Homo sapiens: one gene and its partner. The protein of the gene in region 1 interacts with the protein of each later gene in a pairwise test. Each region holds a gene or a part of one and is shown on either strand. Other genes may lie near its edges.

Region 1 (5,923 bases):
AGGCCTCTTCCCTTCCCCAACACCCACCCATCAGTGCAAAAGACTGCTGCCCAGCAGGGAGTGACATCTGTGTCTCAGATTTTCTTGCTGTGCTCTGAGTACTCACTCCTCATCTCCTTTGACCAGTTTCCTAACACTCCCCTTGTTCACAACACAGAACATGAGTGCTCTTTCCTGTCATTTTGACGCTGATAAACAGCAATTCTGTGTGAAAATGAGAATGAAGATTTTTTTAAAGACAGGCTACAATAATTCCCATGCTGAGAACCACATGTGATGACACTTGTGATGAAGATGAGGACAGCAACGAGCTGAGAGACTCCAACCAGGATTCACACATGCAAGGGGATGCATGAGAATGGGGATGGGACATTGGTGGTTAGCATCCTTGCTTGTCTCAGAATGGACGTGGGTTGTGGATTTCTAACTCCTGGAGAAACCAGAGTTCTAGGAATTGTAAGCCACTTTATGTTAGGAAAGAAAAAGACGGTGTTCTGCTCTCCTGTCCCTTAAAACTGTGCGTACTGCCACTAAACCTGGAAGCTGAGAACGGTATAATGGCTACTCCTGACTTCCTTTCATCAAATCAGCCTGCTATTGTTTTCTGCAATGGTTGTGGTGCAGAATCTTTTTGTGGTGCAGCCAAGATTCACACTTGAGTCTCCTTACTGCAAGTTCGCACTCTCACAGTGGAGAGTTAACAATAATTGCCTAATATGTTACACTTTTTTGGGAAGAGTTACCAGATAAAGTGCAAGATCCCAGTGAAATGTGAATAGCACAGATAAAGGACAGATTTTTTTTTTTGTAAAAGTGTACTCTAAATGTCATATGGATCATAATTATAGTAAAAACTAATTCACTGTTTATCTTCAATTCAAATTCCACTTGGTATTCTTTATTCATACTTGCTAAATCTGGCCACTATGTTCTTTCATGTATTTTTAATTTTAAAAAACAGTCCAACATCTCATTCTAGCAATTTACCTACAGAAATAAAGAGAGGAACCACATTACTGGGACAAATACAGTCACTGCAAATATCAGAAGAATACTAGAACATATTAATATATTAATTTTTACCCCCAAAAAACTGAAAATATTTTTAGACAGCAAAAATAGCTTCATTATGCTTTTGATTGCATAATATATCTCTGGAAAGATGAAAAAGAATCAGATAACACCTATTTCCTCCAGGAAAGAAAATGTGGTGGCCAGAGAAAAGAGGTGGGAGGAAGGCTGGTCATTGTCTATTCCACTGTGCACAATTTGAATTTGGAACCATGCAAAAGTATTGCTTAGTTAAGTTAAAATCATGTAAAAGATACAAAATAAACATTTAACACCAGCACAATATGCTGGGAAACAAAATGAAAGGATTTCTGGTCTCGGTGCTGTAGGTCACATAGCCTCTCTTTCCTGGACTGAGTCTTCCTAAGAAAGGGGACGGGAAGTAAGGCTGGCCTACTGGTGTGGACAGATTCCAGCAACATACATGACCTGGGGGCACAAGGACTGCTTCCTAAACAATGATGAGCACACAGCCACCTAATAGCCTGGATCAGCTGAGGCCATTCTGATTTCAAACACTCAGTCCCCTTGCCTTCCTAAGAACCCCTGTGTTTCTCAGACTGAAAACGTGTTCTGAATTTTGTTAAGTAAGTGTGGCCCCTGTTGAAATTCATCAAGAGTGGGAAAGAGCCAAAGTGGGAAGGAGCATGGGTTGATTGGCACAAAAGTAGGTCTGTTGATAAAGAATGGAAGTAAAGGGGACATCAGGTAGAAGCTTTTGCTGTGAGTCAGAAGGACAATTTAAAAGTTGCCTAAAGAGGCGCACACTGTCTGTGTTGCTGCCATCCAGTTGGATGGCAACCAACTGAACCAAGGGAACCTCAGGTTCTTGCCTACTGGCCAGAGCCCTTCACAGAATGTCCCCCACCCCCGCCAAGCCCGGCTGCCCACTGCCCCTCCCCCTCTGCAGAATGTCTGGGGTCCTGTGTTCCAAACCTGTTTATATGCAAATTATCCCTGCTCCACTTGGACTCAGGAGGATCTGCTGAGTCAGGTCACTCTCTGGGTCCTGCCCTTGACTTTTTTCATTGCGGAAGCTGCCAGACAGTGGTGGTCAGTGCCCAGCCTGAGGGGATGGCTTCAAATGGAGGTGAGCCTGTAGGGATGGGGCATTATCCGAGTCTGCCTTGCCTCAACTCCTTGGGAATTCAAATTTGAACTGTCCCTGGGGACAGCTTATAGGGCTGATGTTGAGGGAGGGAGCACTGGATGTCCCCAGGGACATCACACCTGGGGATGGCCATGGCACCCTGAGTCTGTGGTTAGGGAGGAGGGCTCCTTAGAGGCGGACCAAGATGCCTGGGGGAATACACCGTGTAGTGGAAAGGATGGAGAGGATGGGTTGATCCTTTCTAGAGGGGGACAGGTCACGTCATTGTGTTTGTAGGGAGTGGTGGGATCGTGTTGTGCTGGTGGCCCAGGGAGAATGACGGGCAAGCCTGAGCCCTGTGCCGTGTCTTCAGGCACCTGGAAGGTGCCCTTCCATAGTGTTTAGAGGGATTTGGACTGGAGTTTTCTAGTTCTTAGAGAGGAGTGGGGAGAAGTGGTCTCAGCCAGAAAACTGTTGGGTGGGTTGGCTGTGACAGAGCATGTAGTGACAGCCTCTGGGTGGGCAAGGCTGGGGGCCACTGCAACTGCCACAGCCCAGAGCCTCTCAGCTTCCTCCCCAGAGATGGCTTCTCCGTCAGTTCAGGTAGCTGTTGGCTTTGATTTAACAGGGGTGGGGGCAGAATGGGGAAGTTCAGGCAACACAGGGCCTGGGTTTCCTGAGTTGTTCTGAATTGTTTGCCCTTTGGTGGAAGCTCAGGTCTTCAGACCCACTTCCTCTCGTCAGCTAGCTCATGGCCCGTCCTCTGTACTTTGTGTTACTGTGGAGGTGAAGAATTTGCTCCTGTTCCATTTATACTACCTCATGAACGGGCGACAGGTGTGGATTCTTGCTGGTTCTCAGTGGAAGGCTCTGAAAAGGCTGGTTTCCTTTTCAGTAGAGGAAGGAGAGTAGCGCACAAATAGGAAGACAGTCCTATTATTATTATTATTCAAACTAGGATGTGTGTCCTGACTGATGAGGTGCATGTGCTGTATCCCTTATTCCCCTTGGCTAGAGACTGCATGAGGTCCTAGTGAACAGGGATGAGTTCCAGACAACTCTGCCTCACCTGGCCTGTGGCCCAAGAACCCCTGGTTCTTCGTTGGTCCCTATGTTCAGTTACTGGGAGCTCAAAGGAGAAGGACCAGAGATGGGCTCCCTGTCCCACTATTTAGTGTAACATGACTAGCAGCTGTGAAAATCCCTGGCCGGGCGCGGTGGCTCACGCCTGTAATCCCAGCACTTTGGGAGACCAAGGCATGTGGATCACGAGGTCAGGAGTTCAAGACCAGCCTGACCAATATGGTGAAACCCCGTCTCTACTAAAAATACAAAAATTGGCTGGGCATGGTGGCGGGCGCCTGTAATCCCAGCTACTCAGGAGGCTGAGGCAGGAGAAGTGCTTGAACCTGGGAGGCAGAGGTTGCAGTGAGCTGAGATCGCACCACTGCACTCCAGCCTGGGTGACAGAGCGAGACTCCGTCTCAAAAAAAAAAAAAAAGAAAAAAAAGAAAATCCCTAGACACCTCCCCTGATAGCCCTGCTGCTCACCATTTGCTGGCTGTGTTCTAGTCATGTGCAGCTGTTGCTGGCTACACAATGACAATATCTCAGGGGACTCCACCACTGCTTCTCAGATCTGCTCCCTGGGAACTGAGCTTCCTGAGTGGCAGCTGGGACCACTGAGCACTGAGGAATGGGTGGCCTGAATCTGACCCCTATTTAACACTTGTGTGGGTGGTGCCAGGACAATCACTTGCATGCTGGGCGTGATGTGTTATGGGTTATCTTCAGGGTTCCTAGGGCACTGGCTTGGGTGAGTTTCCATCCAGTGGTTTTCTTTTTTTTTTTTTTTTTTTTTTTTGAGACGGAGTCTCGCTCTGTCACCCGGGCTGGAATGAAGTGGCACGATCTCGGCTCACTGCAGCCTCTGCCTCCTCGGTTCAAGCAATTCTCCTGTCTCAGCCTCCTGAGTAGCTGGGATTACAGGCACGCACCATCAGCTAATTTTTGTATTTTAGTAGAGACGGGGTTTCACCACGTTGGCCAGACTGGTCTTCAACTCCTGACCTCAGGTGATCCACCCGCCTGGGCCTCCCAAAGCGCTGGGATGACAGGCATGAACCAGCACGCCCGGCCTATCCAGTGGTTTTCTTTTGTTGTGTTGAGCTAGGAAAGAAAGGGGTTTACAAGAGCTTCAGGGAAAGGAAGACTGAAGAGGAGATGGGGCCATAATATTCGGAAACTTCTGGTTTCCTGTCGGCCTTCTGAATGCCGAGCACTGCCCTGGGGTAGGCCCCTCACCTGCTGCTGAGCACACTGAGAGCCACCAAGCCACCGAGAGACTCATCCCTGACCCATGGCTTGGGAGATGCCTGTGAGGCTGGTGCAGTCTGCCAGGGACACCCGAGGGAGACCCTCAGAGACAGCAAAGGCTTGGCTGTTTCTTCTTGGCAGACAAGGGTCAGGGAGTCTTGGTGACTGGCGCCAGGCTCTCTAGTGGAGCGACTCTGCCGTGGAGGAACAGAGCATCTGATGCACACTCAGGGACACTTGCAAGCTGCAGAGTTTCCCTGTCACATGCCCTCAGCTGTTGGGACTCCCCTGATTCCCCAGTGACTAGTGTGGACCTGGAGACGCCAGCTCATTCACCTCTTTCCTTTGTCTCCACAGCATACCCAGTGCTGGGACCCGGCGTGACCGTGAACCCTGGCACCTCCCTGTCTGTGTTCACGGCTCTGCCCTTTGCCACACCCGCTCCCGGCCCAGCACACAGGCCGCCCCTCGTGACTGCAGTGGTTCCTCCAGCCGGCCCTCTGGTGCTCTCTGCCTTCCCCAGCACCCCTCTAGTGGCAGGACAGGATGGCCGCGGCCCGAGTGGGGCCGGGGCTTCCAACGTCTTTGTCCAGATGAGGACAGAAGTGGGGCCTGTGAAGCCCCCTCAGGCACAGACCTTGATCCTAACTCAGGCCCCCCTCGTCTGGCAGGCTCCAGGCACCCTCTGTGGAGGTGTCATGTGTCCACCTCCCCTACTCCTGGCAGCTGCTCCTGGGGTGCCCGTTACCTCTGCCCAGGTGGTTGGGGGCACCCAGGCCTGTGAGGGAGGCTGGTCCCATGGCCTTCCTCTTCCACCACCACCACCGGCTGCCCAGGTGGCCCCCATCGTGTCCCCAGGGAACGCTAGGCCATGGCCACAAGGGGCTCATGGAGAGGGCAGCCTGGCTCCCTCCCAGGCCAAGGCCCGGCCGGACGACTCCTGTAAACCCAAGAGTGTCTATGAGAACTTCCGACTCTGGCAGCACTACAAGCCCCTGGCCCGGAGGCACCTTCCCCAGAGTCCTGACACTGAAGCGCTTTCCTGCTTCCTCATGTGAGTGTCCTCGGGGCGCCGGAGCTTGTCCTGCAGCTCACTCATAAAGAGGCTGCTGGATGGACAGGAGGTCACACTGTTCAGGGGAGCTTGCAGGGCGGTTGTGAGGGTGATGGGTTGTGCTATGGGAAGGTACGTTTTCAGCAACATTAATCTGGCTGCGGCTCAGGACAGACTGTCAGGGGCCTCACGTCAACTGCCTGTCACTGTCCCGTGAGTCCAGCCAATCCTTAATTTTTTTTTTTTTTTTGAGATGGACTTTCACTCTTGTTGCCCAGGCTGGAGTGCAATGGCGCGATCTCAGCTCATCACAACCTCCGCCTCCCGGGTTCAAGTGATTCTGCTGCCTCAGCTTCCTGAGTAGTTGGGATTACAGGCATGTGCCACCATGC
Region 2 (4,387 bases), on another chromosome or scaffold:
CAGCCTGGGTGAGAGTGAGACCCTGTCTCAAAAAGCGTGTGTGTACACACACACAAACTTCTGTTCAGCAAAAGATTCAATTAAGAGAACAGGTAAGCCCTAAACTACAAGAAAATAGTCACAAAAAATATTCGTATATCTGACAAAGAACTTCTATCCAGAATATACAAAGAATTCCTATAATCCATTTACAAAAAGACAAGTTTATTTTTAAAATGAACAAAAAGCGCCTGTAATCCCAGCTACTTGAGAGGCTGAGGTGGGAGGACTGCTTAAGCCCAGGAGGTTGCAGCTGCCATGAGCCATGATTATGCCACCGCATTCCAGCGTAGGTGACGGAGTGAGACTCTGTGTCAAAAAAATAAATAAATAAGGAAAGAAAGACTTTAACAGACACTACACAAATGAACACAACTTTATGAAAAGATGCTCCTCATCTTTAGTCATCAGGTAATGTGATTAAAGCCGCAAAGAGCTACTACCAGACACAAAAGAGAATGGTTAAAATTAAAAAGACTAACAATACCACATGCTGGGGTTTGGAAATGACTGGCATTTCTTATGAAGTTAAGCATACATCTACTCTTATTATCCAGCAATTCTACTTCTAGGTATCTCCCCAAGAGACCTATTTATTTACCCAAGAAAAATAACATAGTTCCAAAAAAAGATCTGCATAAGAATGGTCATAGCAGTTTTATCCCTGTTTTTTTTTTTTTTTTTTTTTTTTTGAGAAGGAGTCTCACTCTGTCGCCAGGCTGGAGTGCAGTGGCACAATCTCAGCTCACTGCAACCTCCACCTCCCGGATTCAAGTGATTCTCTTGCCTCAGCCTCCCAAGTAGCTGGGAATACAGGCACACGCCACTACGCCCAGCTAATTTTTGTATTTTTAGTAGAGACGGGGTTTCACCATGTTGGCCAGGATGGTCTCGATCTCTTCACCTTGTGATCCACCTGCCTCAGCCTCCCAAAGTGCTGGGATTACAGGCTTGTGCCACCACGCCCAGCCAGCAGTTTTATTCCTAATAGCCCAAAGCTGGAAACAAATTTTGATATATTCATACAACTGAGTATCACTGGAAAATGAAAAGGAAACCAGTGGTATCTGCAATAACATGGATGAACCTAAAAACTGATATGCTGAGCGAAAGAAGCCAGACACACAATCTATGAGTCCATCTGTATGAAATACAAGAACAAGCAAAATTAATCCATGATGACAAAATTCAAATGGTGGCTGCCCAGGAAGGGATGAGGAGAAATATGAGGATAGGCTGAGAAGGGGTACTGGGGAAATTTCCTTTTTCTCTTTTTTTTCAACTTTTAAGTTCAGGGATACAGCTGCAGGATGACAGGTTTGTTACATAGGGAAACGTGTGTCGTGGTGGTTTACTTCACAGATCATCCCATCACCCAGCTATTGAGCCCAGCATCCATTCGCTATTCTTCCTGATGCTCTCAGGGAAATTTCTTTGGTGACGAAAATGTTCTATTTCTTTATAAGGGCAATGGTTATATGCTTGTATGTATTTGTCAAAATGCATTAAATGTTATACTTAAGATATGAGCTTTTCAAAAAATTAATGAAAACTTCCATTCAGCAGCAATAATCTGCTCACTTTACTTTTCCATTGTTGCCTACAATAATGCAATTAGTCAAACTCTATTCTAGTGAATGCAGTACAGTGGTATTTTTCTAGCTTTGTTCTGTCCTCTTACCTTGTTAACTTCTGGTGTGAGGATCTCTATTTTCCTTAAACGTTGAAAAGCATCATAATCAGTCTCTCCAAATAGTCTGATTGGTTCTCCTCTTTCTCTCAATCTTCTGATGACCTACAAAGTGAAACAGATACCCAGTAAATTTTTTTTTTTTTTTTTTTTTTTGAGACAGTCTCACTCTGTTGCCCAGGCTGGAGTGCAGTGGTGCGATCTCGGCTCACTGCAAGCTCCGCCTCCCAGGTTCAAGCGATTCTCCTGCCTCAGCCTCCCGAGTAGCTGGGACTACAGGCGCCCGCCACCACACCCAGCTAACTTTTGTATTTTTAGTAGAGATGGGGTTTCACCATGTTGGCCAGGATGGTCTCAGTCTCCTGCCCTTGTGATCCGCCTGCCTCGGGCTCCCAAAGTGCTGGGATTACAGGCGTGAGCTAATGTGCCCAGCTATTAAACTTTTGAGAGAGGAAAAAACTAAACATCTCAAAAACAATTTGTATATTGTACCTTAAAAGCCAAGCCTGGGTTTAATAAAAGCTAATTATCCAAATACATGCCTCTGTGTAAAGTATAAAATCCTTCAAATATTTTAGATCATTTCAATTAAGCTAAACAAAGATGTTTCCAAATCAAAGAGAAAATCAAGTACTTTAAAAATCTATTTTGACTCAAAAGTCACTGTTATTAATTTTATCACTGAACAGCTCCTAGAAAGTGGTCTGACCTATGACTCTACAATTCAAGTCTAAAGAAAGACCCTAATATAAACCACCTCTTTTACTGTGAGATTTTTAAAAAATTCTTTTTTGTAAGAAAAGGGGCATGTCTGTGGCCCTCATTTTACATAATTATAACTGTTCTTAGTCTTCTTTTAAAAACAATGGAAAGACAATAGTAATCCCTTATGTCAGCATATTTTTGGTGATCAAACACTTGTTTTGAAATGTAGATGAAAAAAGTAATCTGTTTATTCTTTTAATTTTCCATAAACAGATATACTGTGTTACCATCACACCTTAAGTAACCATAAAGTTTAGGTCGTTTAGCTCACTGCTTCGATAGGACCAATCTGTGTGGCAGGACACACAGGAAAAACACTAAGATGGGAGGGAATGACAGCATTTATAGAGAGAAGGAAAATCAAATCTGAAGCCAGCTGATAATTACCATAATGGACAGTCTGCATTGTAATACCACCATGAAACCAAAAACTTCTCCCTCAGAAAACAGGGAGTTATAATCTGCATATGCAGAGCTTTTAAGATGCTGAAAATCTATTTCCAAACTTGGGTGATGGTTACATGAATATTTATTTTATAATTATTCATATATGTGTAACAAACATATATTGCCCTAACATGGTTCATACACTTTATATACATGCTATGTATGTCATTTTAAAAAGGAAGAAAGAAACAGAAAACGTAATAAATACTAGTCCAAATTTTTTAAATAAAGCAATAATGAGAAACACCAAGAGCTTTACCTGGGAGCATAAATAGCATCACACCTAAAATCCATTGAGAGGGCTCCCAGTGGATTAACAGAAGTTTGAGATTAAAACAGAAATTTAAGAGGTCATCTAGTGCTATCTCCAATCAATGCAGAAATGACCTCACAAACACCCTTGTCAGATCCCTGGCTGACAAATGGCAGGAATCACATTTCTTCGTGAAACATCCCATCCCATTGTTTAGACAGAGATGTTTTGCTTCTCAAAACTGAAATCTACTTCCCCCAAACTTCTACCCATTTATCCCAGTTCCACTTTATGAAACTACAGAGAATATTCTGATTTTCCAAAATCAGAGCTACTTTCATTGGATTTTTAAAGATATCTCTAGTAATTCTTCTCTCCAGCCTCACTATTCTAAATTCCTTCACCTCATCTTCATATGATGGTTTCTAGAGTCAGTCACCATTCCCCTGAAAATTTCCTTTTATGCAATGTCCGTCATAAACATGTGGTAATGTAGAACTAAATAATAATACTACAAACATGTCAACTTGCGAGAAGTACAGAATACATAAGCCTTTGATCTAGACGCTTTATTTCTATGACTTACATTCAGTCCTATCCACAACTACAGAGGTCGAACAGGAAGAGACTACTGAGGACTCAAAGATGAAAGATGACCCTAAGTCAGTCAGTCAAAGACAAAAACAACCTCGACAGAAAAAAGAAAGGGAATGTGAGCTAGTTATTACTGTAAAACACTGCTTAAGATTGGGTGCTATAACTTAGGCCAAGTTGTGAGGAGTGCATAATATTTTTCTGGTTATCAGTTTAAATAGCTAACTCTCATCTACCTGGAATTATATAACAGTGGTTCTGTCTAAAGGCAAGGTAATAAACTACCTGACTTCGAAATTTCTTTTAGTGCAAGAATTCTATTATTCTAATTTTTTAAATAAAGAAGCTGAAATATACCACCACCACCACCACCACCACCACCTCCCCCAAAAAATGACACAGAGACTAAAGGGACATCAGTGAAAGAACTTAAGCCTCTGAGTCCTCTTTTACTATTTCAATAGACGCTCGCTGAGCAAAGGCAGGAACTTCTTCCCCATATCATGTCTACTACTTAACTGATGTACCACTATTAATCAGTAACAATGGTTTACTAATGATGGATCTCACAAAAAGAACAACTTCTTAAAACTACGTCG

What was found.
Region 2: the proteins of NUTM2F (region 1) and PRPF18 interact in a two-hybrid assay, tested with the Homo sapiens proteins (one large-scale study listed by BioGRID).

What each region holds. Positions count from the first base shown.
Region 1 is NC_000009.12:94,324,846-94,330,768, reverse strand, and holds the start of NUTM2F (NUT family member 2F), read left to right. Parts: upstream 1-2,124; 5' UTR 2,125-2,145; coding exon 2,146-2,161; intron 2,162-4,834; coding exon 4,835-5,531; intron 5,532-5,923.
Region 2 is NC_000010.11:13,603,078-13,607,464, reverse strand, and holds part of PRPF18 (pre-mRNA-splicing factor 18), read right to left. Parts: intron 1,835-4,387; coding exon 1,721-1,834; intron 1-1,720.